4 linked regions of the Homo sapiens genome follow. The protein of the gene in region 2 purifies or fractionates together with the protein of the main gene of each other region. This does not show direct contact. Each region holds a gene or a part of one and is shown on either strand. Other genes may lie near its edges.

Region 1 (5,974 bases), on a different chromosome or scaffold from region 2:
AGGAGCAGCTGACACCCCGGGGCTTCCTGAGGGAGGGGTACTCTAATCTCGGCTCTAGGGCAGTTCCCAGGACTAGGACCCTCCAAGCAGCTGAGTCAGAGCCAGGGTCTGGGACCTTCCAGGGCTTGGGCAGCTGGGAGTCATGTGCCACTGTCTCAGTGCAGGACAGCAGGGTGAGCGGGGAGGAATTGCCAGGGAAAATCTGAGGGCCACAGGCGAGTACACACTGGGCCAGGCAGGGAGTTTCTGGTGAATCCGTGCCCCATGATGAGCCCGTGCTGCTGACTCGCGCTGACCATCCGGGCCTGCTCATCGGTCACTCACGGCCATGGGCCCAGCTCTACCTCTGAAAGTCAGGCTCCCCATCACAGAACTGGGGCGCTGCTTGCCTTCTGCTCCTCTGCTATGGGGACTCCTTCGGGACATGGTGTGCAGGACTCTCCCGCCTGGGCATTAGATGTCTGGGGAAGCATGCTGAGAAAAGGACATTTGAAGGGGTCTTGAAGGACATACAGGAGTTTAATGCTGGCTCCAGGCCACGTGAGGATCCAAGCTGAGGGAGTGGGGTGAGGCCCAGCTGGGTCTAGAGGGCCATACGGTGGGGGTGGATGCCTGGAGGCTCAAGGTCATCATGGGGGCCTGTGTGCAGGGCAGAGCAGCAGGGCCGAGGGGATTGACACAGCAACTCTGTCCCATGTGACAACTAAGGGTGGGCTGGGACCTCCCGCTCTCCATGTGCGGACCCTGGTGACTCACCCAGGGCTGCCACCAGGGCAACCAGCCCCGGCTGGAAAATGGGCACAACCTGGACCCTACGGTGCCTGAGGCCTATGTGTCCTATAAACCATGGAGCTGCGCCTCAAAGAAACACCTCCCGGTGTCCACCCATCAGACACCATGCAGGCCTTTGCTGTGGCCAGGAGGGGCAGGGCAGGCTTGGGGGAACTGAGATCTCAGGGGTGTGCGTCACCCAGTTCATGACACCCCAGGGACAGCCTGACCCCAAAGCTCCTGGCATTAGGGTCACCCACTTCCATGTTGAACCTGACTGGGGGCCCCTCCTCTGTGCCCCAGGTGAGTAACAAGGTTAGAAGGGAAGCTGGGTCCTGGAAGGAGAGGACAAGCCCTCGGAGCAGGGCTGAGCAACTCTCAGGGACACAGGCCTCCCGGACCACATTAGCCACAGCCCCCGGTGACCCACAGTGTGACACTTCGCAGGGACCAGGCGGCCTGGAGTGGACCCTTCCTTCAGGGGCGCATACAAGTAACCCAGGCAGCCACACTGAATTCCAGCCCAGGACTGTGGAAGAAGGCCCAGCACTCCTGGACCACCCCAACCCCAGGAAGGAGTGGCCTTTTCTGCAGCCAGATGGGGGTGGCCACACATTTGCCCCTTTGTCCTGGAGACTGGAGCGCCTATCATGCCAAACCAGGACAGGGAGGAGCAGGGACCAGGGGCAGAGCGCAGGTAGGGCTGGCCTAGACAGCAGCTGGGGGTGGCCTTGGCTGCTAGGGATCACTCAGAACAGAGGGGGACGGTACGTTTATTGCTCATCACTCACACTTGGGGCCAGGCCCCTGCTAGCATAGCACTCAAGGCCCCCAGCACAGGGGAAACAGAGGCTCCCAACAGCCACTGGCTGCCTGGGCAGAAACCCAGGCCCCCTAGGCACCAGCGGCAGCTCCAAGGGCCCCATGGCTGACACAGGCACTGCTCCTTCCTTGAGGCTGTCAGACACCAGGGCGGGCGAGGAGAGCCCCCAGCCTGGGCGTCCTGCCCTCTGTCCCCACTTTGGGAAATGCCCCTAAGCTTAGCCTTTAAGAGGTGATCACATAGGCACTGTCCCTGGGTGGTGTCCTGAATGCACCTCCCCTACCCCACACCGTTGTCACTGTGGAGGGACCTCCTCCATGCCCTTGGCTTCTGTGAGGGGTAGGGGTACCCACATAGTTCCGGGACTCACAGGCTGGCATTCACACCCCAGCCCCGACACACTTGCCTGGTTGCCTGCGGCAGACAACCCACTCTGCCGCTCCTCTCCGCAGCGCTGCCTGGCCTCAGCGAGTGCAGCCCATGTCAGGGGCTCTGGCTGGGTGGGGGATGCCCCGCCTCTTGGACATGAGTGGACGAAGGCCTGGGCTGAGCTCAGTGCTGTGACATCAGCCAGGAGGCCAGAGAGCAGGGTCACCTCCCTGGTTCCTGGGCTGGCCTGGTCTCCTAGCGCTGGGGAGAGCAGGGCAGGGATTCTGGGTCAGCTCACCCCAGCTTCTGGCCAAGGCTGGAGCCTCGGCCCGGGGACTGGAGAAGCACGAGATGGTCTCAGGCCCCGTGGGGCAGCCAGGGCCGTGGGGGCCCAGGGGTCAGACGCAGCGTGGTCTCAGGGTCAATGCCCCCCTCCCTCCTCCACCCCCTTCCTGCTTAGGCCCACCTGGGAGGGGGTCAGACTCCCCCACCTGCACCCTTTGGCTTCAACACCCAGGGGAGCCTGTGGCAGTGGATACTTCATATTGGCAACAAACAGCAGCTGGGATGGGCCACAGGGCTGGACAGGAATGGCTGAGGCCCAGCCCCAGCACTGCTCCTCCATCACAGCCGCCCTTCCTGCTGTCCCACTCTGGCCACCCAGGAGGCCCCCAAGCCCCACCCCACCGTCTGTGTCTGGCAGGCATCGCTGACCATATAAGGTGCCTCTGGCCTCCCTGCCCAGCCCTTCAGTGCTCCCAGCTCCCTGGTGCCCTGGGAGGCGGCCCCCTAGCCTGGGGTCTTGGTGGCGAAGGTCAGGTAGCCGGTGTGGCCCACGGCCTCCTTCATGGGCGTGCCGCTGCGGAAGGGGCTGGTGTCGGAGCCGGCAGGGCCATCTGTGCCTGTGCCCAGGTCGGGCGGTGGCAGGCTGACAGTGCGCACGTTGTAGACCTGTGGCAGCACCTCCAGGGTGCTCAGCTCTGAGAAGCCGCGCGCTGCCAGCGCCTGGCATGTGCGTTGCACCTGCTCGATGCACGGTGAGAAGGAGCAGAAGCGCCCGCCTGTGGGAAACAGGACCCGAGGGTCAGAGGGCAGGGGTGGCAGAGCCTGGCCCGTCTGGCCCTAGCATCCCTGGACTCCCACCCTAGGGTCTGAGGCCAGCCTAAGACAGCCCCAACACAGACTGCAAGCTCTCCAAGAGCTGGGACTGCAGGGCAGAGGGGCCTGGCCCTCAACTGACAGCCCCCCATGGGGCCTGGCGCCGCTGTTCATGTCACCCAGCTTAGCCATGCCAGGCCCTCCCATGTGCCAGGCACCGGGTCAAGCCCGCGCTGCCATTGTCTCACTTGGCCCACAGCGGGCACTGCTCTCCTGCCTTCCACAGGGCTGCTGGAGCTCTGGGCCCGGAGCAGCTCTGACAGCACGGCAGCGTGGGGCGGTGCGGGGGCCGCTGCTGTCACAGGAAATTAGAGGCTGTCGCTGCTCCCGGGAACAGGAGGCGCCTACTCGAAGCAGAGCCCGAGCATGACAGCCCCTCCCTGCCGCCTCCCACCAGGGCAGCCACGGGCTTCACTTGGCCTGGCCTGCAGTGAATGAGAACCCAGCCCGGGTCCCTGTCCTGGCAGGGAGGACCTGGGGAAGCCAGGGCCGGGTAGAGGTATGTGGCCCAGGCAAGTGTCCTCAAACGTCCCTGAGGTTTGGTCTCCTCAGCTGTACCCTAACACGGGGCCGCCAGGAGGTTCGGGGTTAGAGGAGGCACCTGCTGTGTGACAACAGCCTAGACAGGGCACAGAGGCTGAGCATGCCGCATCCTCCCCAGCGGGCTCCCGTGGCCGGCAGGAGATGCCGGGCCCATGAATGAGCCAGGAGCCTTTGGACCCAGAAGGGGGAGCTCGCAGGGAAAGGGACAGGTCCCAGAGGCAGGCGCGGGTTCCCCGAGCCACGCTGGAGGAAGGAGTCACAAAGGCAGCAGGGGGGCCCCAGGGGAGGCTCTGCCGGGTTCAGCCTCCCTGGGACTATGGTCCAGGCCCAGAAGTGTCCCCAGAGCAGGAAGCCTAGGAGGCAGGGTGTGGAGATCCCCACAGCTACCCACCTCAGCAGAGACCAGGACCCAGGAGTCAGGGCTGGGCTGGAGCCAGCAGGGGACCCCCGGCCACAGCCTTGCTGTTCGCACCAGGCCTCGGCTCATCTTTGAGGTGGGGTGGGGCGCCCAGCACCTCCACCCTTCAACCCTCTCAGAATACAACTCTCAGCTGGGAAGAAGGAAGGGGCCCCTGCTGCCTGAGCTGCTCCTTCTCCAGAAAAGGGAAAAACCCTGGGCCTCCCAGCCACCTCCCTGGCTTGAGGCCCGACCTTCCCCAGGGCTGCCCCGCCTCCGCACCCAGCATCTTCCCTAAAAGGGGCCAGCTCCCTGGGCTCCAGAGCCTGGGGGAGGAGAGGTTTTGGGAAACAGCAGGGAGGGGACTCCAGACTCCTCCGGCCGGGCCTGCCCTGCACTTGGGTGGCGCTGCCACCTTCCTCCATCAGGGGGTTGGGAGAGGCCAGAGACCAGGAGCAGGGCCCAGCCAGGGACCATCCTCCCCAGCTCTGCCTCCCCTGGCCAGCCTGACCCACTCCTCACCTCAGGCCAAAGTGGGGCCCTGGCCTGGCCACTGCCATGGTGTGGCTTGGTCTCTGGACCCCTCTGAGATCCCAGGAGCTCAGTCCTGCACCCTTGCCCCACCCCCACCCAGGCTGTACCTCTCCCGGAACCCCGGATGCACCTTCGACCTTGAGGGCGTCCCAGGCGTGGCCCACGGCCTCCCAGGGTGATGGGATGTCCAGGAAGACGGCGTCGGCCACGTGGCTCACGCCAAAGCCACTGCGGCACACGTCCTGGGTGCGCACAGTCACCCAGCGGCCCACACGGTGCTCCTGGAACTCCTCCCGGGCCTTCTCTGCCCGCTGCTGGTGGAACTCCACCGTGTGCAGGTGACCCGTGGGTGCAATGGTGCGGATGATGGCGTGGGACACAGAGCCACTGCCGGTGCCTGGCAGGACAAGAAGGGATGGGCAAGGCATCAGTTGGGACTGCTCGGGACCCACAGCCTCCCAGGAAACAACCCCCACCTCACCCTGGAGACCCACACAGGGCTTGGGAGGACCCCAAGCTACAGGTGGGCGTCATTCCAGGGCTGTATGGTCCTGGCTGCCTAAAGCCCCAGGCTAGCCCTGGGTTGGGCACCCTGTCTAGGGGTGAGCTGGGGTTGACAGGCTGTGTATGCCGTGCTGTCTGTTGTGGGCACAGGCGAGGCCAGTGGCAACCCTGCCCTATCCTGCCTAGCGCAGGTATAGGGAATGAGAGCAGCCCAGCTGCCTGGAGCCTCCGGGGAAATCTGTGCAAGGGGGACAGGGAGGCCATCCCATCACTCAGCCCTGTCTTATTCCATGCATGGCCCATCACTTCCTCAATCCCCGTCAACAGTGGCCCACCCTGCCGGTCCTCATGCCCACCTCTCCCCAGAAGCTCCTTGGTCCCCTTGAGACAGCCCACCCCCACCAAGCCTGCCCAAACCTGCCCCCACCACACAGGGGCTGGGGCTCTGCCCTGGCCTGGTTGGACTCAGGACGCAGGGCCTGGCCACCAGCCACACGGCCCCAGTCCTCCCCAGCGCACCTGCCCCCAGCTTCCCTCCCCAGCTTCCCTCAAGATGGCCCCTCTGCTTGACTTCCTGTCTTATGGAGAGGGTCAAGGCTTGCATCCCTCCTCCCACTCCAGCTTCAGGGGCCATCTACCTGATGCCACTCCCATCCCCAGGCCCCTCCACTGGAGACTCCTGCTAGAGCAGCCACTGCACACTTGCCACCCATGCCTGGAACCCAAATAGCGCTGAGCATCGCAAGTGCTTGGGCCAGACCCATGGAGGTGCCTCCACTCCCTCTATCCCGTCCCACGTCCTGCCACCTCCCACATTCCTTTCAGGGGCCAGCCCCTCTCCCCACCTGTCCAGCCCCTCCCCTGGGTGCCCCCAG
Region 2 (7,872 bases):
CTCCACTCCCACTCCTTAGATATAAATTCCCACTTTTCCTTTTTTTTTTTTTTTGCATTTGAAGTTCAGCCCAATCTCTTTCCCCTACTGCAAAACCCCCTTGCAGTGGTAACTATACCTACTGTGATAGTCTGAATAAAATCTGTCTTACTATACTTCAGCAAGTATCATTGAATGAGATTTTTTTCTTTAACATTATCCTTGTCCCTGGAAATACTACCTCAATAAATCCCTTTTCCATACATTCTTGTCTTAGGGTCTACATCTGGAGAGTCAAATTTAAGACATATGATAATTAACACAGTGATAGCTATGAAGGCAGCCTAGGAAAGCTGTGTAAAATGAGAAAAAAAGGCAACCTAAGATGGAATCCTAGGTTGAAAGCACTATCACTTACCACAGAGGCAGAGAAAAAAGAGACCAGGAATGATACTGAAGAAAAGAGGCAGAAATGTTGTGGAATGGGTGAGGTATTGTGAATAGAAAGTGTGGTATCAGACATGAAAACCAACAGAGAGAATTTCAGGTCAAGAGTATGAAATTATACAGAGAAGTCAAGTTACTTCAGGATTACAAAGAATCAACTAAATATTGCAACAAAGGGGCCTCATTATACCCTATTAAAGATTGGGCATTTTTAATATTTGGAAAGTCAAGACTGTTAATACCATAATATTGTTTTTTTTTTTTTTTAAAAAAAAGGTATTTTTGAGCACCTGTTGTGGCAAAAACCCTGTGCTAGTGATACAGTGGGGGGACTGAATGACAGTCCCTGCCAGGAAGGGTCTGACAGTCTAATTACAGTCCAGTGTAATAAGTGTTTGCAAAGTTGAAAGTCAATGAAAATCATTAGAGGTACACAGAAGAGTCAAAATCTGTTATTTTCTTTATTAATGACTCTATAACCTTTTATACAATTATTGTGTATTATACATCTTATTTAATGTACCTTCCTACTGCAATTCTTTTAGCAGAGTGTCAGGGAAACATGTATGTTCATGGAGGGTCAAGCATGCTGACCAATGTACTTGCAAGTAATGCAAAAGAGACATTTCTTCATTGTATGGATATCACTTGTTTTCTTATTTATTTGCACATTTATTTTTATTTTTAGGAAAAAGATTCTTTCAGCACATGATGAAACAAAGAAAATATCTTCTGTTGTTAGCTTTGCTTTTATGAATAGTTTGTTTTTTAACTGCAAATTCATCTTGCACTAATGGATGGTCTGGTAAACAGATTATCTGCTCATCAGTAGACTGTCTGGCTCTATATGGTTTAGTTATCATAGTTTGGAAAGGCAGCAACTTGCTGTTACTTTTTTCCCCTAGCCTCCAAATCTGCAGTGAAGAGTGGCTTCAACACAGCACCTGCTAAAATTTTCACAGGAATCTGCTATTTACTGATGGACTCTGCACTTTGGGGAGCTATAGAGATAACATTATCTCTTCGCTGTTTCTTATCTTATAACTTTGTAGCAGAGGAAATCAATGAATGTTAGTATCTGTTAATATCTGCCTTTGTTAATGTAAGCATTAGAAACTTGTACTTTCTGGGTGAAACTACTGAAGTCTTGGATTTTTTTAAATTCCAAGTTGCCAAAGAGGAAAGAGGGAGAATACTTAGTCATTTTATATCCACAGCCCTCTACCCTGCTCCTTGCTTGTAAATCCCCACTTGGCCTTTTAAGAGTTGAAATAGAGTCCAATCTCTCTCTCCTCCTGCAAGACCTGGTTGCAGTGGTTCTGATCACCATGGACCCCCTTGAATAAAGCCTGCCTTATTATCTTCAACAACTTTAATGACTAACTTTTTATTCACTAACTCTCCCTCTTAACTTTCTCTACCATGTTCATCAGACATGCAGTTAGTAAGGCATGTATAATGAAATGTAAATACATTTGGCACTAACATCCAGTGTTATTATGTTTATAGGTCTACATTTCTACACTTTTTAGAATTTATCTCTATTTTGTAGCTATTCCTGAAATGATGTTGAAGTAGAACAACAACAACAAAGTCTTTGATCTGACTATTTTTTTTTTTTCAGACAGAGTTTTGCTCTTGTTGCCCAGGCTGGAGTGCAGTGGCGCGAATTCGGGTCACTGCAACCTCCCTCCTTCTCCCAGGTTCAAGCGATTCTCCTGCCTCACCCTCCAAAGTGGCTGGGATTACAAGCATATGCCACCATGCCCGACTAATCTTGTATTTTTATTAGAGACGGGGTTTTGCCATGTTGGCCAGGATGGTTTCGAACCCCTGACCTCAGATGATCCACCCGCCTCGGCCTCCCAAAGTGCTGAGATTACAGGCGTGAGCCACTGCGCCCGGCTAATCTGACTACTTTTTAAGGAGGTTCAAACTTCAGAAATAACTGTAAATATTTGTTCAAATAAGAGAAATATTTAGTCTAAAATATAAATCAAAGAAAGGGTACGTACAGATTAAGCAGTGTTTGCTGTAAAAAATGTACACATTTATTGTCTAATAATACATCAGTATTAAAACTCAGTTATGTTTCCTTTATTGTACTCCACAATTATAACCATTTACAATTATTGGTAGTTTAAATAACTGAGATAAATACTGTAATTATGTAGACTTCATTACTTGAATATTTAAGAAACAATTTTCTTCCCAGATGTAAATTTTTATATTACCTTTATTGTTTTAATTTTACTTTTTCTGTTTCATTCTTAGATTCAGGGAAAAATATTAAATTATTTCATTATCACCTTGGAGCCACATTGCTAAATAGTTCAGATATTACAAATCTTTAGCCAAGACCAAATTGTGTTTTTTTTTTCAATTTATAGCCCAATTATTAATATTTAGAGACCATGTTTCTTTTATGCAGTTCTTGGTATCATCTTTTTCTATAGCACTACATTTTACACAGTTATTTCTTGCCTTTTACGGCTGGGAATCAAAACACATACGAACTTCAATTTTGTTGTAATAAACGTTAAAATTTGTGAACATTTTTAGTACTTCAGTAAAAAGCTCACTCATTGGCAGAAGCGTTCCCCAGATCAGGAAAAAAGGAATTAGGATTATCTATGACCACAAAGTAACATTAATTAATAGCAGTCTTTGGGAGCAAGCAGCAGCGCCTTTAAATCTTAGATTCTCTTGTGTCTGCAAATTATCTTTTATCTTTCAGCTGTGAAATTTTGTCTATGAAGTAATACCACGAGCAAATTAGCAATAGGATTGCAAGGTTTTTATAGTCCCGTGCTGTAGAACAATTGGCAGTAATTTGAAAAAGACCGTCCATAACGCTGTTTTTGGTCTGCGGCTAAATTTGCAATTGCATAGTTTCATTAAGGAGAACTGGAAAGAGGGCCCAGAAGTTGTTCTAGCAATCGGCAGCAGTTTATCTATTTTAAATCGTAATGCATACTTTTTTTTTCCTCCTACTGAAAACAATGGCAGATATGCTAAAGGGAAGGACACATTCTTGAACTGCTAAATGGTTTTTCCAGATAGCCATTTACGGAGTGCACTCAATTGCCACTATCTGGCTGAAAGCAAAAGCACACACGACGGCCCCTTTTCTTTTTTCCCTTTGCAAAGCGAAACAGTCTAGACGTGTTCACGTGATGTGAATGACGTCAGCCCCCGCCGGGTCGCGTGACCGACACCCAGCCTTCCTACTACCTCCCCCTGACCGCCAGAGTGGGAAATATCGCGAGAATTCGCCTTACTATCAGAACTTACTGAGGTTGCAGGGGAGTTACTCAGAAGGGAAGGGAAGGTGTGGTTGTGCGGCGGAGTTTTTGCTTTCATTCTTTTAACGTTCACAGCCAAAGCAAAGGCCTTTGGGGATTGCCAGAGTCTCAGCCACCATCCTGGAAAACAGCGGGGGAGGTGGGCCTGGAGGTGGCAAGTGTAATGTGGCTCAGGGGCCGTCATTGCCCCTTGCAGAAGGGGCTGCGGGGGAGGGAGAAAACCTGCGCCCGGTTCTGGGGAGCTGGCGACGCAGTGAACCCTGCTGAGGCTGGGTTTTGCCCCGACAGTCGCTGGTGGCTGTGGGAAGGGTTGGGACCCTTCTCTGAGAGCAGTGAACAGCCCACATCCGGCCCCTGCTGTGTCAACTCTGAGCGGCGTGGAGATGAAGTGGTTGCTCTCCCTTGCTCGGCCCACCGGGTGTCGTGGCCCGGGAACCGGCCTGGAGAAGTCCCTGCTGCCCGGCGCCCAAAACAGGGGCGTGGGCTTCCGCGACCCAGGGCGGCTGCCCCGGGCCATCCTCGAGTTGCCCTGCATCTTCCCGCTCAGTCAGCCCCAGATTGAGGCAGCCTTCTCTGTGCGGGTTTAAATGGGTAACTGTGACTTCTCGCCTCATTCACCCAAACCTCCAGTCTTCTCCCCCGCACATCCTCCTCCACCCACCTGGTTTCTCCCTAGACTGGTGTGCTCGTGTGTGCAACCAAAGGAGGGAGTGCGAGAGATCCACGAAGGGACAGGCTTGGAGTCGCTAGAGGGAGGTGTGGGACCAGCGAGGAGGGGGCTTCGCCAGGGAGGGGGTGCTGGCAGGCGGAGGGAGCGGCGGGAGGAGGCGCCGGAGGAGGAGACGGAGGCCTGGGGACGGCAGAAGAGGCTTCGCCTGAGCCGAGCGCTCTTTCTCTCGCCGCGCCGTCTTGAAGCCGCGCGGGCTCGTGAGCAGCGCGAGGCCGCCAAGGTGCCTCGCTTCGCCGGAGCCGCTGCCGCCCGCCGGAGGGAAGCCGGCCTCGGGCGCGCACGCTCGTCGGAGCCCCGGCGCGCCCCGCGCCTGAGCCTGCTGACAGCGGCCGCTGGGCTCAGGCTGTCCGCTCTGGGCTCCGCGGCCTCGGCCCCGCTGCACTCCACCTCCGCCCCCTCGGACTCCCTCCCCTCTGCTTCTACTCCTCCTGCTCCAGTGCGGATCGTTTCGCAACTGCTTGCCACTCGTCCCGTGCCTGGCTGTTTTTCCATTTCCCGGCCCCCTCTTCTTGAGTACTTTACCCCCTGCATTTGGGGACAGGGACTGGAAAAGGGGCGGGTGGAGCGTCCAGTGGAGAAGAAGGAAGCGAGGCCCGCAGGAGGAGGAGGATCGGCGGACTGTGGGGAGGAGACCCCACGCCACCCTTTCTGGTCATCTCCCCTCCCGCCCCGCCCCTGCGCACACTCCCTCGCGGGCGAGCTACTTTCGGACCAGGAAAGTAAGAGCGGCCCTGGGTGACAGCGCCGCGGGGCCAGTCCCGGGGTTAGCCGCGCGTCTGCTCGCTTCTGGTCCGTCGCGCTCCCAGCCAGGGCACAGCCCGGACCGAGGATGGCTTCGACCACAACCTGCACCAGGTTCACGGACGAGTATCAGCTTTTCGAGGAGCTTGGAAAGTAAGCACCTTTGCCCGGCATCCGCATATCCCCTTTCCAGCTGAGGGCGGGTCGCGTTGCCCCCGACCCACCGGCCTCCGTCTTGGGGCGAGGGAGTTTGGGAGAGGAATGGGAGGAGGGCCCCTGGTTTGTCAGCTCTGGGGAAGGTGCTGTCTTAATAAAGGGAGGGAGCACAGAAGGGGTAGGACCCTTACTCCAACTGTGGCTCATTTTGATGGTCCCTAGCCCACCTTCTCCCGGTCCCCCACCCTCCTGCACTGAGAGACTTAGTGAATTTACGATCTCTGCAGTTGTAGCTATCATCCTGAGAAGTGTGCGCGCGCGCCTGTGTGTAATGTGTGTTTGGAGAGGAAATTAGAACCCATGTAAAATGCAACATAGATCATGTTTTCTGTAAATAGAGATGCCTCCTGGTTAGCCGGCGTGTCGGCCGTATGACCCAGGTACTGATGAGAACTCACAGCCTCAGACGGTGCCATATTTATTGATGCCGAAAGTTCAACTTGGCATAGAGTCTATTTCGCATCCAGTAGTTGTTCTGTCCAGGAAAAGGGCCACCCAACAGAACCCAACCCCTTGCCCTATATCCAGTGTTGTTCTTTGCACCAGATTACCGCTCACCATCATTCTTCCTAGGATTTACGTGTGCATCTTTGCGTTCTCTGGGAGGATTTATTTATACAGGCAACGGAAAAGCCCTCTGGAGACTGAGAGCGCTCTTAAGCGTAGCCTAGCATTGTGTAAAACCACCTCCTTCACCCGACTGGCAGAACTACTTGGAGATGTTAGGGAAGGAGGCAGGAGACCTACTGAGGACTTATGCAAAGGGACCTAGGGGCCAAGCCGTGAATGCTGATTTTTGTAGCATGGAACCCAAACCCAATTCCTCTTTCACTAGTTTCGACTGTTACTTTTATGAAAGGAGTGCGTTTATATGTATGTTGTTGGTTTATACTGTAATTAAAGGAAAGGTAAATATTTTTAAAAGTAATAAAAATTACATATGTATATATTGTCTGGTGTTAAAACATGGAGAATATGTCGGAAGAGCAGCTTAATTCAAATCTCTCCCCTCCCCCAGTCCAAAACAAGGCATAGAGAAATCACCATACCAGGATTTGTTAAACCACACTAATGTGCTCAAGATTTATATTTTAATGAAAATAATCGTCATGTTTACTTACTTGGAACCACATTAATTTTTTGTTTCCTACCAAAATAAGTAGGCAGCAGATTTTTTTGCTGCTCCTCGTCTGCTCTGTTCTGTGCAGGGTTTTTCTCAGAGCATTTGGTGCTGTGAGTGTGAACTGTAAAATGTTTTCAAATTTCTTGTGCAAACAAGAGCGGTCATAATTGGCAGTTCCTTTCATTTTGTTGATTAATAATGTGTGCTCCCAGTTAAATAAAATTTACTTTTATTCTTCAACATTAAAGAAAGTCTGGGTTTCCAGGAAGAATTGTTCATTTACTGGATATTACTGTACTTCACTGGCAATCCACTAAAATCAATAAAAATGCTCAGATTTTATAAATTTTTAATGAAATATTATATCTGTTATATTAATGACCTGCTAATTATTGGTTTCCAGGGGGGCATTCTCAGTGGTGAGAAGATGTATGAAAATTCCTACTGGACAAGAATATGCTGCCAAAATTATCAACACCAAAAAGCTTTCTGCTAGGGGTGGGTATTTTCAACCACATATATTGGTTAATTTTGTATTTGTCATGTTGATTATAGGTTCTGTTGTATGTAAATATATCATGTAGTTATAACTGAACTTTAGACTTAGGTATCATATTATATATTAAGATTATTTTCTTCCTGAATGCTTCTTGGTCTGTACAGCTTAAAAATACATGGAAAGATATAATTATTATTTGATACATTGCTATTAAAATTCTATCTGTCCTATGAGCAATAGCATGAATAACTATATTTTAAAGCAAATAAATGTCAGGTGCATTTTGCTTATAGTTTAAGTATAAAACAACTTTTAGACCATGGAATGGAAAAATATAAGTCTCACAACTGTCATAATTCCCTTTTGCTTTTGAGAGGGAAGTAGGTCATAGCTCAGTTGAATCATACATTTCAATTGTAGTTACACTTGAACTTAATTCATCAAGGTATATTTAACAGTAATAGCTTTGGTAAGAAAATTTATGATTGCTATATTCTAGGAAGTTTAGTTTTATTTTGATGTTTCTGTGTGCAGCTCAGACCTTGGTCTTCGCATTAAGGCTTCACACAGACTCATGTAATGTATTTTACACATGTAGTTTATAGGTACAGAGATAATTCATACTCGTAAAATAGCTGTTGACATAACCAAAAAACTTGGAGGGCTCTCACTGCATTCTTTTTATTTAGTAGAACTCATGCAAAAGTACTTACGCTGAAATGTTAGGCATTCCAATTATTGTGGGCACGTGTCTGAGGTATTTCCATGGGAATTTATGGTATAAAAATGAAATGAAAATGAACAAAATACCATAGTGTACGCTCATCTCAGT
Region 3 (7,596 bases), on a different chromosome or scaffold from region 2:
TTGGGAGGCTGAAGTGGGAGGATCGCTTGAGCCCAGGAGGTCAGGCTGCAGTGAGCTGAGACTGTACCACTGCACTTCAGCCTGGGTAACTGAGACCCTGTCTCAAAAAAAAAAAAAAAAAAAAGATTAAAACTTAGCAATAAGGAAAGAAACAACTCAGTTAAAAAAAAAAAAAGGGAAAAGGATTTGAACAGACATTTCCCCAGAGAGGGATGACAAATAAGCACATGAAGATGCTCAACGTCCCTGTCATCAGGGAAATGCAAATTGAAATGCTATGCGACACCCCTACACGCCCGCCCATCAGACAGGCCAAAGTTAAAGACTGATCTTAGAGAAACTGAAGGACTCATTCCCTGCTTGCCAGCATATAAAACAGTGTAACTACCTTGGAAAACAATGTGGCGGTTTCTTAAAAACTCAAACATATGCCTCCCCTATGATCCAGCCACTCTACTCCTAGGTATTAACCCAAGGGAAACGAAAGCCCGGATCTACACAAAGACCTGTCGGTACATGAATGTTCACAGCAGCTTTATCTGCAATAGCCAAAACCTGCAAACAACCCACATATCCATCAACGGGTGAAGGGACAGACTGCAGCGCACCTGGACACTGAAACCGCCTGGCAACAAAAAGGATGAATGACGGACAACACACGACGACACACGGGGATCACACAACAATCGTGCCGAGTGACAGATCAACAAGAATGCACATCCTGTGTGATTCCATCTACGTGGAATTCTAGAAAACCCAAAGCAACCTACAGGGACAGTAGACGGCTGCCTGGGCTCAGGGAGGGGCAGGAAGGTGTGATCACGAAGGAGCACAGGGACTGGGGGTGACGGGAACGCTCATTTCCTTGATTTCACGAAGGAGGAGCAGGGACTGGGGGTGACGGGAACGCTCATTTCCTTGATTTCACGAAGGAGGAGCAGGGACTGGGGGTGACGGGAACGCTCGTTTCCTTGATTTCACGAAGGAGGAGCAGGGACTGGGGGTGACGGGAACGCTCGTTTCCTTGATTTCACGAAGGAGGAGCAGGGACTGGGGGTGACGGGAACGCTCGTTTCCTTGATTTCACGAAGGAGGAGCAGGGACTGGGGGTGACGGGAACGCTCGTTTCCTTGATTTCACGAAGGAGGAGCAGGGACTGGGGGTGACGGGAACGCTCGTTTCCTTGATTTCACGAAGGAGGAGCAGGGATGGGGGGTGACGGGAACGCTCGTTTCCTTGATTTCACGAAAGAGGAGCAGGGACTGGGGGTGACGGGAACGCTCGTTTTCTTGATTGTGTGTTGCTTTCACAGACGTATAGCCATACTCCCGAACTTGTCCAACTGGACGCTTTAAACGATGTGCAGGTTACCGTGTTTATAATACCTTTATAATGCTGGGGGTTTTTTTGTTTGTTTTTTTTTTTTAAATGAGGTGACTAGGAGGAGGGGCCCCAGCTGCCCTGCATTCACTGCACTCACCCAAAGCGCTGGTGTTTGTTGAGGGTGTACAGCAGGTAGTCAGCCATGGTCTCCTCCCCGACCAGGTGGTCCAGCACCGTTCCTGTGGAAGCAGCAGCCGAGGTGAGCACTGGAAACAGCCACATCTATGTTCCTGCCAAGTTCAAACACATCCCTTCCAGTCCTAGCCCAAAGACACCGTGCCGTGAGGAAGAGGCCAGCCACTGACAAAGACACTAACCAAGAGGACGGCACTCGGCTGTGGTCCCGGCCCCCACTCCTGCCTGGCACCTGCGACCAACCTCTCTGCCCTGGTCCGTCAAATGGGGAAAGGGAAGGCCACTCATGGGGCAGGGTGGAATGGTGACCAGTGCCTGTCAGCTGTGCACTATTACAGCTCTCACACTAAGCTTCGAGGAAGGTCTGGCAGCAACCAGGTCAAAGGCAGTAACAACTCCCGTCTAGGGGCCCTGTGCCAAAGCCAGCCCTAAAGGTGGGGTGGCAGGGGCCCCGGTCCCAGCCCCAGCCCCAGCCCCAGCCCCGGCTCACCACACAGGGCCAGCTTCAGGCCTGTCTCCACACTTTCAATCCGAGGAGCCAGCACGCCAGGAGTGTCCAACAGGAACATCAGGGGCCGCTCAGAGACCTGTGTGGGCACAGAGGGCATGATCAGGCCGCGGTGGCAGCCTCCCACCCAGGTGGGCCACTCAGGAAGCCTGGGCAGCCCCTGGCACCCAATGCTCCGAGGAAGGCCTCAGGGACCCAACCCCATGGCAGCGTCACTCTCACCAAGCTCCAGGGTTCCCCAGAGGATCTAATTCCCACTTAATTTGGAGAATAAATAAAAGCGTCAGGTCCCAACAGCTTGTCTTCTGCTCCCAAGGAGAACACAAGGAAGGGAGTGGAGGGTGGGGCGGGGGGCGCCACACTCAGGTCTGTCCTGACCACTGCATGGCCCTGGACAGTGGCCTCCTCATCTGGAAATGGGGAAAACAGCGTGCCTTCCCCAAAGGTTTGGCGCAAAGACTATGACGACTGTGGAATAAGGGCAGGGGCAGTGCCTGCCCCGGGGGTGCTCAGCGGGGACACTGAGTGGAGGGGAGGGAAGCGTGGTCAGCAGCCGGAAGCCACACAGAGGTCGGCAGGTGCCAGACGCCTGCAGAGCTCTTGACAGAGTGCTGGGCCTGGCCCCTGAGGACTCCACCTGAATTTTGGACATCACAGCTCTGGTGATCCCAGGCTCGCCACCCACCCTGGTGGCTTTCCCTGTAGGAAAAGGAGAAAAGGAGGCTCAAATGTATACTAAACACAGAAGCTGCAGAACAAGTAGGGAGACGTATGTAACAAACACATCTGACCAGCCAAGCAGGGAGACTATGTAACAAACACAACTTACCAGCCAAGCAGGGAGACTATGTAACAAACATATCTGGCCAAAATGGAAACTAAAAGCCAGATGAGCTTCCCAAGGCTATAATTTGTTTCACTTTCAGTCACAAACCAGCTCACAGCAAGGGCACTTTCCAAGCCACACAGAGACTGAGATTCTTCAACAAATGCACCAGAACCTAACTCCCCAGGACTGGAAAGGCACTGTCAGACTGCGGAGGTCAGACCTGAGCTGCTCCTTCCACGCAGTCCCCCACCTCCCTCCTGGACCCACCCCTGCACCCCAAGGTCAGCCTGCCTCCCACAGCACTGTCCACAGGCGACTGGCTGCTCTAGGACCCAGCTCAGGGTGTGTCCCAAGGAGGCCACTCCACTGTGGACAAACAACCCAAGAATAAAAAACACAAGTGTCCATCCAGATGAATGGACAAGACAGGATGTGGTCTGTACACACAACGGGGTGATCAGCCTTAAAAAGGAATAAAATTCTGACACTCAGGACAACACAGACGAACCTTGAGGACATCACGATCGGTGACATCAGCCAGTCACAAAAGGCCAAGTACTGTGAGTCCACTTGGAGGAGGCAGTTACAGTCATCGAATTCACAGACAGAAAGTGGAACGAGGGGTGTAGGAGGCTGGGGGAGTGACTCTTTGTATTTACAGAGTTTCATTTTCAGGTAACCAAAATATTTGAAAATAGTGGTGCTGGCTGCATAACCCTATAAATGCACTTAATACCACTGATAAAAAATAATACGCTTAAAAATAAACTTAAAAGAATAAATGACTGTAACAATGCTCCAATTAGCACCAAAAACACCCTCTCTGTAAAATAACAGTTCACCGTAGTTTAAAGCCTTCAGATTTGCACATCATGAATGGGTTTGTTAATAAATGCCTTATTAATATGAAAAATGAAGCCAACAAGGACTTGAATTAAACTTGAAAATACTTAAGGAAAAGAGCCCACGGGGCAGTGAAGGGTGCTCGGGGCTCCTGCTTTGAATCAGAGTCTGAGAACAGGCACAGAGGGAGGAAAGGAGCGCCTGCGACTCCGGAGTCCAGGAACCCTCCAGCAAAGGCAAGGCGGACGCCATGGAGGAATGGCCTTGCAGCCTCCCTGCCTGATAATCCAGCCCCGTCTACTTCACACGCTTTGTATTCTCTGGATCAAAGGGATTTTTTTTCTTTTCTTTTCTTTTTTTTTTTGAGACGGAGTCTCGCTCTGTCGCCCAGGCTGGAACGCAGTGGCACAATCTCAACTCACTGCAAGCTCCGCCTCCCGGGTTCACGCCATTCTCCTGCCTCAGCCTCCTAAGTGGCTGGGACTACAGGTGCCCGCCACCACACCCACCTAATTTTTCGTATTTTTAGTAGAGACGGGGTTTCACCGTTTCAGCAAGAATGGTCTCAATCTCCTGACCTCATGATCCGCCCGCCTCGGCCTCTCAAAGTGCTGGGATTACAGGCGTGAGCCATGCACCCGGCCAAAGGGATTTAAATAAATGAACAAATATCAAAGTTTAGAAAAGCCATCTTCATGTTAAAGATTTTAAAAGAGAGAAAAATTAAGTGTGAAATTCACAGAACGACCTGGTCCCACTGTTCAGCCCTCCTGTGAACTGGACTGAACGAGACAAGATGTGCTCTGGGGCTGCGGGGTCAGCAGAAGACTGGCAGTGCTCCTCGGGCACGTCCCCTCCAAGAAAGATGGTGGCATCAGCACATCAGCCACACGCGCCAGTACCTTTCCTGAGGTGATCAGCCGCACGCGCCAGTACCTTTCCTGAGGTGCTGCCTCCGGAGGGAGTTGATGAGGGAGGACTTGCCCACGTTGGGGACCCCAATGACCATGATACAGTACTCCAGGTTCTGCGCAGGCAGAGAGAGGGGTCACAGGGCCCACCGTGGCCGCTAGAGCCTGAGACTCTGCAACCCCACCCAGGCAAGGGGACCCCAGGCCAGGTCAGCTCAGGGAAGAAGGGAGGTTAACGCCGAGGCTCTGCCCACCCAGCGGGGACGGCCTCGGCCCTTTCCACTGAAGAGAATGAGAGGACAAAGGAGGGGCCTCCCTGCCTGGGGCGCTGCGCCTTCTCCTTGGAGAGGCCAGGCAGGAGGGGCTGGCCCATCCCACGCCCGCCTCCCACTCCCAGCTCTGGGCCCCACCAACCAACCTCTTTTCGGTGGTAGCGGTGGCTTCTCCCAATCAGTTCAGTGACCATCGGGATGATCTGCAACAAACACCCACTCATGGAGCCACCCCAGGTCGGACGTCTGTGCACTGACCCGCTCCTTCTGCCACCTCAGAACAGGATTAGGGATTCCAGTGTCTCCACTTTCACATATCCGTTAGGAAAACAGAAACCTCCTATCTGGAATTCTACCCAACATTTCATAGGCAAACTGGGCGTCACCCTTCATCTGGAGGTAGCACACCAAGTATCCGGTGTTGGGAAACTGGAGTTCTGTCCAGGTCACAGATGTCAGACTGAGCTCTGGGGCCGGGGACCACCTATGCCCGTCCCCTCCCATCAAAAACAAGCAGGGCAGACCCGGGGCTTCAGTGACAGCTGTAACTACCTTTTAATGAAGAAACACATCAAGCCAGAAAATTCTACCACATACAACTGGAAACATGAGCTACCTGAGTCTCCAAAAGACTCTGACCACCTACAACCCTGGAATGCGTCTACAGCCTGACCTTGTGCCCTCAGTACAGGGAGACCCACTTGCCCCAGGAGATCGCATCCGTGTGTGGCAGCTGGAAACCAACACCTAGGATCTTTTCCAAAGCTCTGCTTCTTACTAAAGCATAAAACAGTTTATAATGCTCCTCGAACCTACTGAAGCAGAAGCGTCAGAGAGAGCACAGACGAAAAGCCTACCTGCTTGACATTTTCATCCTTTACACAGTTGGTAAAAATGACATTTTTTAGGCCTTCTCCTTCTAAGTGTTGCATAATTTTCTGAAAGACACAAAACATTTCTATGTTACTTTTTTTACTGGAGTCTTGGCTCTGTCACCCAGGCTGGAGTGCAGTAGCACAATCTCGGCTCCCTGCAACCTCCGCCTCCCTGGTTCAAGCGATTCTCATGCCTCAGCCTCCCAAGTAGCAGGGATTACAGGCATGCGCCACCACGCCCAGATAATTTTTGAATTCACTGGCCTTAACATGCAGTGAAACTAGTGCAAAGCAGTATCATATTTCTAAACATCAGTGCTGTTAATCATCTGACCTAAAGTATGACTGATGTTTAAATCAACAAGTCCTTCACTGATTCAGCTGGTTTTATTTAGCTGTCCACGAAGATGACACGGATGGAGAGATCAAACATAAGACACACACCTGAAGCCACACACTCTGGGTAGTAAATGTACTTGGGTGTCCCTGCTCAGGGAGGCAGAAGGCAGGGCCACCCAGGGGCAAGTCTACCTCTCTCCCGATTCTTCAGAAGCACTGGCCTTTCTCTGACCAGGTCAGACACTGCTGTGCCCTATACTAGACGGCCACCCACCAGTCTACAAAAAGTCACATTTTCAAAGGCAGGAGTTGCCACTGATATGACGTAAAAGTACCAACTAGTGAAAACACTTGCGATGATTTAAAAAAAAAAAAAAAACAGGCTGGACGCAGTGACTCACGCCTGTAATACCAGCACTTTGGGAGGCCGAGGCGGGCGGATCATGAGGTCAGGAGATTGAGACCATCCTGGCTAACACAGTGAAACCCCGTCTCTACTAAAGATACAAAAAATTAGCCGGGCATGGTGGCGGGCGCCTGTAGTCCCGGCTGCTCAGGAGGCTGAGGCAGGAGAATGGCGTGAACCCGGGAGGCAGAGCTTGCAGTGAGTCAAGATTGCGCCACTGCACTCCAGCCTGGGCGACAGAGCAAGACTCTGCCTCAAAAAAAAAAAAAGAAAATAAGACACAAGACAAAGAGATAAAAGAAAAGACAGCTGTGCCTGGGGGACCACTACCACCAAGATGCAGAGACCGGTAGTGGCCCCAAATGTCTGGCTGCACTAATATTTATTGGATACAAAGCAAAAGGGGCAGGGTAAGGAGTGTGAGCCATCTCCAATGACAGGTAAGGTCACGTGGGTCATGTGTCCACTGGACAAGGGGCCCTTCCCTGCCTGGCAGCCAAGGCAGAGAGAGAGGGAGAAAGAGAGACAGCTTACGCCATTATTTCTGCTTATCAGAGACTTTCGGTACTTTCACTAATTTTGCTACTGCTATCTAAAAGACAGAGCCAGGTGTACAAGATGGAACATCAAGGCGGACTAGGAGCGTGACCACTGAAGCACAGCATCACAGGGAGACAGTTAAGCCTCCGGATAACTGCGGGCAGGCCTGACTGATGTCAGGTCCTCCACAAGAGGTGGAGGAGTAGAGTCTTCTCTAAACTCCCCTGGGGAAAGGGAGACTCCCTTTCCCGGTCTGCTAAGTAGCGGGTGCTTTTCCTTGACACTGACGCTACCGCTAGACCACAGTCGGCTTGGCAACGGGCGTCTTCCCAGACACTGGCGTTACCGCTAGACCAAGGAGTCCTCTGGTGGCCCTGTCTGGGCATAACAGAAGGCTCACACACTTGTCACGTCTCACTATGTCCCCTCAGCTCCTATCTCTGTATGGCCTGGTTTTTCCTAGGTTATGATTATAGAGCAAGAATTATAATAATATTGGAATGAAGAGTAATTGCTACAAACTAATGATTAGTAATATTCATATACAATCATATC
Region 4 (7,705 bases), on a different chromosome or scaffold from region 2:
CTTCCAATTCACCATAGCAGATCCTATTAACCTATTCACTCTACCTATGAAATACATCTCAAAGTCATCTATATTTCTCCATTTGTACTGTTCCTGCCCTATACAAGATATCACGATTTCTGGCCCATCTCAGTCCATTGCAGTGGCAGCCTGCAGCTGGTCTTGTAAGTTCTACTCCTGCACTATAATATACTCAACAAAAAATCCAAAATGATCTTTTTAAAGTATAAATTGAATCTCTAGTTTAAGATCCTTCAGTGACTTCTTACCACTCTTAGAATCAAATTCCTTCACGAGGTAACCCTTGCCAACTTCTCCCTACCTCCCACTTATACCCCTACTGCTATTATATTCTGGCCACACTGGCCTAAAAGAGTTCTTACAGCATGCCAAATTCTCACTTTCAGGGTCTATATTTGGAGACAGAGATTATAAAAGGAAACAATTTTCTAAGTACCAAAAGAACCAAGTCCACAGAATCTCACTTTAAGAAAATGTCATGAGATGTGGACACAGGAGTTTTAATGTCAGCAAGAAGCTAATATGCAGCAAAAAAGGAAAAGACTTCAACTACTATTTAAAGGAGCTTTTCAGTTATGCCCTAGGCCAGAGGCATCAAGATTATGCTAAATTATTGCCTAAAGTTACAGATTTTATCTCCTGTACACCAAAAAAGCCAACAAAATTATAAAGTCATTGGGAAATGAAATAAAAGACACTATTCTGCACATGTTTAAAACACACAGTGGGTCAGGAGCGGTGGCTCATGCCTGTAATCCCAGCATTTTGGGAGGCCGAGGCGGGTGGATTGCCTGAGGTCAGGAGTTCGAGACCAGCCTGGCTAACATGGTGGGTGGAAACCCTGTCTCTACTAAAAATACAAAAATTAGCCAGGCACAGTGGCACACGCCGGTAGTCCCAGCTACTCAGGAGGCTGAGGCAGGAGAATCGCTCAAACCCAGGAGGTGGAGGTTGCAGTGAGCCAAGATCACACCACTGCACTCCAGCCTGGGCGACAGAGCAAGACTCCATCTCAAAAAAAAAAAAAACCACACACACACATTGTGGTATCTCTAACTCATTAGGTCATTAAGTCTCAATTCCAGGAGGGGTGACTCTAAAGAAGCCTCTACAAGGGCTCTAACCCCCAACAAAATTAAAACCAGTGCTTAAGGAAAGATTAAACATTAGGTCAGATTAAAAACAAACAGACAAAACTCTTCTCCAAAAGTTTACAAAATTATTAAGGACATGATTTGATCACCATAACGGAATATATCAACACATCATGAAACATAATTAGAATGCCTTAAAGTGCAAAAGAACTGGCAAACAGGTTTATTTAGACCAAATGTAACTGTATCACTCATCAGGTAGTCAATTTATGAAACTTCCTTACCCTATAACATAGGCTGGGTGAAAATATCATTAGACATAAGAAGGGTTTAGATTAACCTATGGATAGCAGCTCTGTAACAAGGGAAGAGAAAAAGCAACGTCTTGGGAATTGGCTCCTAACCTTCGTGTGTGAAACCAAGAAAAGCAAAATGCATTACTATAAAAAGGCTATTGTTGCCACTGTCAAGCAACCCAGAGCACTGGACTAATGTGATAAAAGAGTCGTATCCTGTGGGTAATCTTTTAAAATCAACTTTTCAGTCTTTTTCTTCACCAGTTAAATAACCCTCTACGATTTTCCCCTTTCCACACGTCCTACTATCTAAGTGGAATAGGTTGTCTGCTTTTCATTTGCACGTCTTGCTTTCCTAACTCTTGTTAGCTGTCTCACAGAGATAGCCACATTCAAGCCTGCTATCCTTATGCTGCTTAAGAGATGCCTGAATTTAACATCCAAATGCCTCATACAATCTCCCCCAGTCAATCCTGAGAAAATCCTCTCTAAATTCCCATCTGATCACTGCCCAGTGAGGTTACCAGCAGCCCTTAGAAGCCCCAACTCACATGGTACTTTCGTGCTGCCGCCGGGGAGTGACAAAGAGCATGCGGGTGGGGCGGGCACTACTGGCATCTGGGTGGGCACTCCAAGGCTTGGCATAGCTATGATCCAGAAAAACCAGGTCCAGCTCCCGTTCATGCACTGAAAGCTGGAAGAGCAGCGAGGTGCCCATGCGTCGAGCTGAAGTCTGGAAGTCCCTCTCCCCACCCCGGTGGGCCATGTCAGTGGAGGGGCAGAAAGTCAGAGCATGGGTATCTGCATGCTAGTCACCTGCAGTGAAAAGTTTCAGTTTAGGTCAATTCCAATATCCTAAATTTCTCCCAATCTACACCATCTAACATGCTTACTTTTGTAACCTACTATCATTCCTATTGAGTATCCATTTCACGGCAGACCTCTGGTGGGGACGGTTCGTGGAATCCCACACCAACACCAAAAAAAAAGAAAAAAAAAACTATGGTGCCACGAGTTGTCCCATACTCAACCTCTAGCGAACTGAAATTACCTAACGGGAGAGCTCACCGACCCCAAGGTTCAGAAAGACCTCGCGTGGACAGACAGTAAACTTGCTTGGCCAGCACCACTTCCTAGGTGGGCAGGAAGGGTTTTGACAAACAGGAAATCACAAATATGAATTCGTTGAAAGCTAAGGATCTCTGTTGCTTCACACCATCCTCTAACGACAATGCGAAGGGAGCCGGGGCCGCAGCTAGAGCGTGGGCACCCCTAAAGGGCAGGGCAACGCCGGCCTCAAAAAAGCGAATCCCAGCTAGGGCTCCACTTCTTCAAGCCTCTCGTATTGTGCGAAACAAAAGTTCTGTTAAGTACTTCGTAATATTCCAGAGTTGTTTACATAAAAATGAAAACTGCCCCCCCAACAAAGCCTGTGACAAAATGATCCCCGTGGAAGCCCTTTCACCCTCACCCCCAGTGAGGCGTCCCTAGCAAACCGCCCAGGACCCCGGCTGCCCCGCAGGCGTTCCCGCCACTGAGCCTCCACACGGCCCATCTAGGAGACAGGGCTATGACTCGCATTTTACAGACGAAGTCGCCAGCTCGGGGAACTGAAGCGATTTGGCCAAGGTCATCCAGAGTTCGCGACGAGGAGGAGCCGCCTGGCCCCCGCCTCCCGCCTCCCGCTCCCTGGGGCAGGGCTCGGCGTCCGCGTCACGGAGGCCCAGACGCGGCCCCTGCCAGCCCGCCCCCGGCCCGACCCGCCCCGCCCGACCAGCACCGGCAGCCGGCCCTAGCCCGGGCCCCCGCATGCCCCGGGAGCCCTGAAGCCCTCGCCGAGACCCCCGGCCGTCCCAACCACGGCCGCGATCCCCACGGCCCGCCACTCCCCTCGAAGCCAACGCTGCTCTCACCCGCGGTCTTACGGCCGCGCGCTCGGCCACGGCCGGATCCCTAAGCGCGTGCGCGTTAACGCCTCCACGCCCCGGCGCTGCGGGCACCGAGTAAAACGCGGAAGCGGGTTACGGCCTGGGAAGGGAGAGGCGGTGAGCGGCAAAGCCCGGAACGGATGAAGCTCCGGCGCCTCTGTCCGGAAGAGGAGAGCCAAGAACACGCGAGCATGTCCGAAGCAGAAAGTCAACAACTAGGCTGGAGTTTCCCCCTCGCGCATATTCAGTAGGGAAAGCGAGGGCGGAGGACTAGGCTGGCTTCTACGGCCCCAGTTCTCGCCACCCCCACCGTGTTGGTCCTTTGTGCCCTCTGGGCGGTCGAGCACCCAACGGTCCACCTCCACCAGGGCAGCCACCTGAATTTACTCATTAAGAATTTACCTAATGTGGCTCACGCCTGTAATCCCAGCGCTTTGGGAGGCCTAGGCGGGAGGACCTCTTGAGCTCAGGAGTTTGAGATGAGCCTGGCCAATATGATGAGACCCCCGTATCTACAAAAAATTTTAGAAATTAGGTGTGTGTGATAGTGGTGTATGCCTGTAGTCCCAGCTACCCGGGAGGCTGAGGTGGGAGGATCACTTGAGTCTGGGAGGTCCAGGCTGCAATGAGCCATGGTTGCACCACTGCACTCCAGCCTGGACGACGGAGTGAGACTACGTCTCAAAAAAAAAAAAAAAGAATTTTGTTACTGACCCTAGATTGTTTTGTGTGGTTAACTTTCCTATGTGTTTTGTGTAGAGAGAGTAGATCCTCAAAATCAGGGACATTAACCTTTGTATCCTCCAGAGAACATACACCCAGAACATAGGTAATTGTTCAAATGTTGACTGATCAATAATTGGTTATTTGGTTGACTGACTGACAACATGACATCAAGAGACATGAGACAAGACAGCAAGAGACATGGTTCAAGATGATAAATCTCACCCGGGATCTGTGGCTCATGCCTATAATCCCAGTACTTTGGGAGGCCAAGGTGGGAAGATTGCTTGAGCCCAAGAGTTCAAGACTAGCCTGCACAAAACAGTGAGACTTCGTTTCTATTTAAAAAAAGAAATGGCCGGGTGCGGTGGCTCACGCCTGTAATCCCAGCACTTTGGGAGGCTGAGGAGGGTGGATCACGAGTTCAGGAGTACAAAACCAGCCTGGCCAACATAGCGAAATCCTGTCTCTACTAAAAATACAAAAATTAGCCAGGTGTGGTGGCGCATGCCTGTAATCCCGGCTACTCGGGAGGCTGAGGTGGGAGAATCTCTCAAACTCAGGAGGCAGAGGTTGCGGTGAGCCAAAATCGCGCCATTGCACTCCAGCCTGGGCGACACAGCAAGACTCTGTCTCAAAAAAAAAAAAAAGATAGGTACAGACATGCAAACACTCGAAACATTCAGAAAGCCACTCAAAGCTGTGTTCCACAAAGATGAGAGGGTAAACTGAGAAGACGGAAGGCATAGGATCGGGGAAGCAGGGTCTAACACAAGAAGCAGACGAGGAATTCTGAAGGTGATGGCAAAGAGTATCCCAGGACAATAGCTATGCTGCAGGACTGGGGACCACTAGTCTCAGCTGGGGGAGAAGAGAAGACCAGGAGGGAGAGCCCCGGGGAAAACAATAAAACTGGGAAAATGCCTCATAGATTTGAAAAAATCAAGGAATGCTATTTAAAAGTGCTGTTTAGAAATATGGAGCTTAAGGCCATAGAAATTATCACAAATAGAGCAGCCCCTGCCCCACCTCTCCCTACCCTTAACTTTGTCTCCTGGGCGCTTGTTTGGGGCCAGGGTTCTGCTATTTCTCTACTTATATTCCCATTCCCACTAAAAACAGATTTGTATCTTTTCTCTGCCCCTTCCTTTCCTCAGCACACCACGTTTATCATTTTGTTTCATTCTTTGCCAATTTAAGAGGTGATAAATGGTATCTTATCCCATTTATTTGCTTATTAATGAGTTTTTTGTTTTGTTTTGTTTTTGTTTTTTTGAGACAGAGTCTCTCTCTGTCGCCCAGGCTGGAGTGCAGTAGCGTGATCTCGGCTCACTGCAACCTCCACCTCCCTGGTTCAAGCGATTCTCCTGCCTCAGCCTCCCGAGTAGCTGAGACCACAGGCGTGTGCCACCATGCTCGGATAATTTTTTGTATTTTTAGTAGAGACGGGGTTTCACTGTGTTAGCCCGGATGGTCTCGATCTCCTGACCTCGTGATCCGCCCGCCTTGGCCTCCCAAAGTGCTGGGATTACAGGCGTGAGCCACCGTGCCCAGTGAGTTTGATTTTTTTTTTTTACATCTTTTTTGGCTTTTGAAACCAATTTGGCAAAGTCATAAATTGTATTTCATTGTATTTCTTTGATTATTAACAAGACTGAGGGTTTTTTAAAAAAAATTTTTTTTTGTCATTTTGGGCAATTATCTGATAGGAGCTTTGCCTTTGTTTTCCTTTGGGATAGTCATCCTTTTCTTATTAAGAGCTTGCTCTATAAACATTTATTAAATAAACTGTTGGACATTAAGTATATTGAAAATGTTTTCCCTGCTTTGATATTTGTCTTCTAGCTTTAAGGCATAATTTCTACATAGGAATTTTTTATTTAATACAGTCAAATCTGTCAGCTTTTCACTTACAGGGTCTTTTGTGTCACGCTTACTTTGAAAAGCCATTCACAAAGCGAAAAGCACTGTGTTGTGTTTAGATTTCAAGAAAAACTTCCAAGAAGCACTTTTTTTTTTAATCTGCTGCACTAGAAAGCAATCAGCACCCTGATCACTGACCCAGCGTTTCAGTCTTTGAATCCATTCATCTCTTAGACTGCGTGGTACGCTTACTGCTAAGTAGTTGTTTCATTAACTAATAGATTGTTCTTAAACATTGTTTTTTTTTTTTTTTTTTTTTTTTTTGAGACAGTCTTGCTCTGTGGCCAGGCTTGTGTGCAGTGGCGTGATCTCGGCTCACTGCAACCTCCGCCTCCCAGGTTCAAGCGATTCCCCTGCCTCAGCTCCGGAGTAGCTGGGACTACAGGCGCGCAATACCATGCCCGGCTAATTTTTTGTATTTTAGTAGGGACGGGGTTTCACCATGTTGGCCAAGATGATCTTGATCTCCTGATCTCGTGATCCGGCCGCCTTAACCTCCCAAAGATCTGGGATTACAGGCTACAGGCGTAAGCCACCACGCCCGGCCTTTTTTTTTTTTTTTTTGAGACAGAGTCTCGCTGTGTTGCCAAGGTTGGAGTGCAGTGGTGCAATCTTGGCTCACTGTGACCTCCACCTCCCAGGTTCAAGCGATTCCCCTGCCTCAGCCTCCCAAGTAGCTGGGATTGCTGGCACGTGCCACCACGCCCAGCTAATTTTTGTATTTTTAGTAGAGATGGGGTTTTGCTATGTTGGCCAGGCTGTTCCCGAACTTCTGGCCTCAAGTGATCCGTCCACCTTGGCCTCCCAAAGTGCTGGGATTACAGGCATGAGCCACCAATCCCAGCATTTAAATATTCATTAGTTTTCATTCTAACTATTGGATAAGATGTAATTTATACGATGTTCAACCCTAAAGCCTAAAAAGCCTTGCTGTGGACAATAAGAATAGGTGCCCCAGCTCCATCTTAATGCACAGAGGCTCAGACAGCCATAAAGACAGCCACTTCAAAACCGCATTGTCTTCTTTGACCTTCCATATGAGCTCATTAATTCAAAAGCTAATTTCCTTTTGTCAAAGAGGGTCTCGTATCTAAACTTAGGTTTTTCTTAGTAAAAAGGTTTCCACGTTAGGAAGAACTTTCCCTGAGACCTCACAGAAATAGTCCTTGATTTTCCTATCCCTTTTCTCAGGTCACTTCACTGTTTTCTTATTTTCTCATCTACATTGTGTGACTTTGGCAATGATTGGCTCCAGACAACTTGCTTGTACAAGGAGAAAACATCAACCTTATGTCTGACCTTGAAATCAAAAGGACGGCAAGGAGGGCAGGTGTGGGGTGGGCAAAAAAAAATTTTTTAAGGCCAGACTTGGTGGCTCACGCCTGTAATCCCAACACTTTGGGAGGCCGAGGTGGGCAGATCACCTGAGGTCGGGAGTTCGAGACCAGCCTGACCAACATGGAGAAACCCCATCTCTACTAAAAATACAAAATTAGCCGGGCGTGGTGGCGCATGCCTGTAATCTCAGCTACTCGGGAGGCTGAGGCAGGAGAATCGCTTGAACCAGGGAGGTGGAGGTTGCGGTGAGCTGAGATCGCACCATTGCACTCCAGCCTGGGCAATAAGAAAAGGGGGTGAAAGCAGCCAGGTGGTTTTGTTTCTACAGGCCCAGTCACCTATACCCTGTTCCTCCTCCCCCTTCTCTTTCCCATTAATTCCT

Evidence for each region.
Region 1: the proteins of CAMK2D (region 2) and TRMT61A purify together in Homo sapiens (co-immunoprecipitation; 3 studies listed by BioGRID and IntAct, with this or other methods). This does not show direct contact.
Region 3: the proteins of CAMK2D (region 2) and MTG1 purify together in Homo sapiens (co-immunoprecipitation; 3 studies listed by BioGRID and IntAct, with this or other methods). This does not show direct contact.
Region 4: the proteins of CAMK2D (region 2) and KANSL3 purify together in Homo sapiens (affinity purification with mass spectrometry; 2 studies listed by BioGRID and IntAct, with this or other methods). This does not show direct contact.

What each region holds. Positions count from the first base shown.
Region 1 is NC_000014.9:103,531,600-103,537,573, reverse strand, and holds the end of TRMT61A (tRNA (adenine(58)-N(1))-methyltransferase catalytic subunit TRMT61A), read right to left. Parts: intron 4,993-5,974; coding exon 4,726-4,992; intron 3,025-4,725; coding exon 2,753-3,024; 3' UTR 501-2,752; downstream 1-500. UniProt on the Homo sapiens protein: Catalytic subunit of tRNA (adenine-N(1)-)-methyltransferase, which catalyzes the formation of N(1)-methyladenine at position 58 (m1A58) in initiator methionyl-tRNA.
Region 2 is NC_000004.12:113,758,487-113,766,358, reverse strand, and holds the start of CAMK2D (calcium/calmodulin-dependent protein kinase type II subunit delta), read left to right. Parts: upstream 1-4,620; 5' UTR 4,621-5,290; coding exon 5,291-5,355; intron 5,356-6,944; coding exon 6,945-7,039; intron 7,040-7,872. UniProt on the Homo sapiens protein: Calcium/calmodulin-dependent protein kinase involved in the regulation of Ca(2+) homeostatis and excitation-contraction coupling (ECC) in heart by targeting ion channels, transporters and accessory proteins involved in Ca(2+) influx into the myocyte, Ca(2+) release from the sarcoplasmic reticulum (SR), SR Ca(2+) uptake and Na(+) and K(+) channel transport.
Region 3 is NC_000010.11:133,396,658-133,404,253, reverse strand, and holds part of MTG1 (mitochondrial ribosome-associated GTPase 1), read right to left. Parts: intron 5,820-7,596; coding exon 5,739-5,819; intron 5,085-5,738; coding exon 5,028-5,084; intron 4,726-5,027; coding exon 4,635-4,725; intron 2,726-4,634; coding exon 2,664-2,725; intron 2,106-2,663; coding exon 2,009-2,105; intron 1,563-2,008; coding exon 1,481-1,562; intron 1-1,480. UniProt on the Homo sapiens protein: Plays a role in the regulation of the mitochondrial ribosome assembly and of translational activity. Displays mitochondrial GTPase activity.
Region 4 is NC_000002.12:96,634,959-96,642,663, forward strand, and holds the start of KANSL3 (KAT8 regulatory NSL complex subunit 3), read right to left. Parts: upstream 3,355-7,705; 5' UTR 3,325-3,354; exon of another isoform or gene 3,302-3,324; intron 3,034-3,301; exon of another isoform or gene 2,883-3,033; intron 2,391-2,882; exon of another isoform or gene 2,228-2,390; 5' UTR 2,178-2,227; coding exon 1,963-2,177; intron 1-1,962. UniProt on the Homo sapiens protein: Non-catalytic component of the NSL histone acetyltransferase complex, a multiprotein complex that mediates histone H4 acetylation at 'Lys-5'- and 'Lys-8' (H4K5ac and H4K8ac) at transcription start sites and promotes transcription initiation.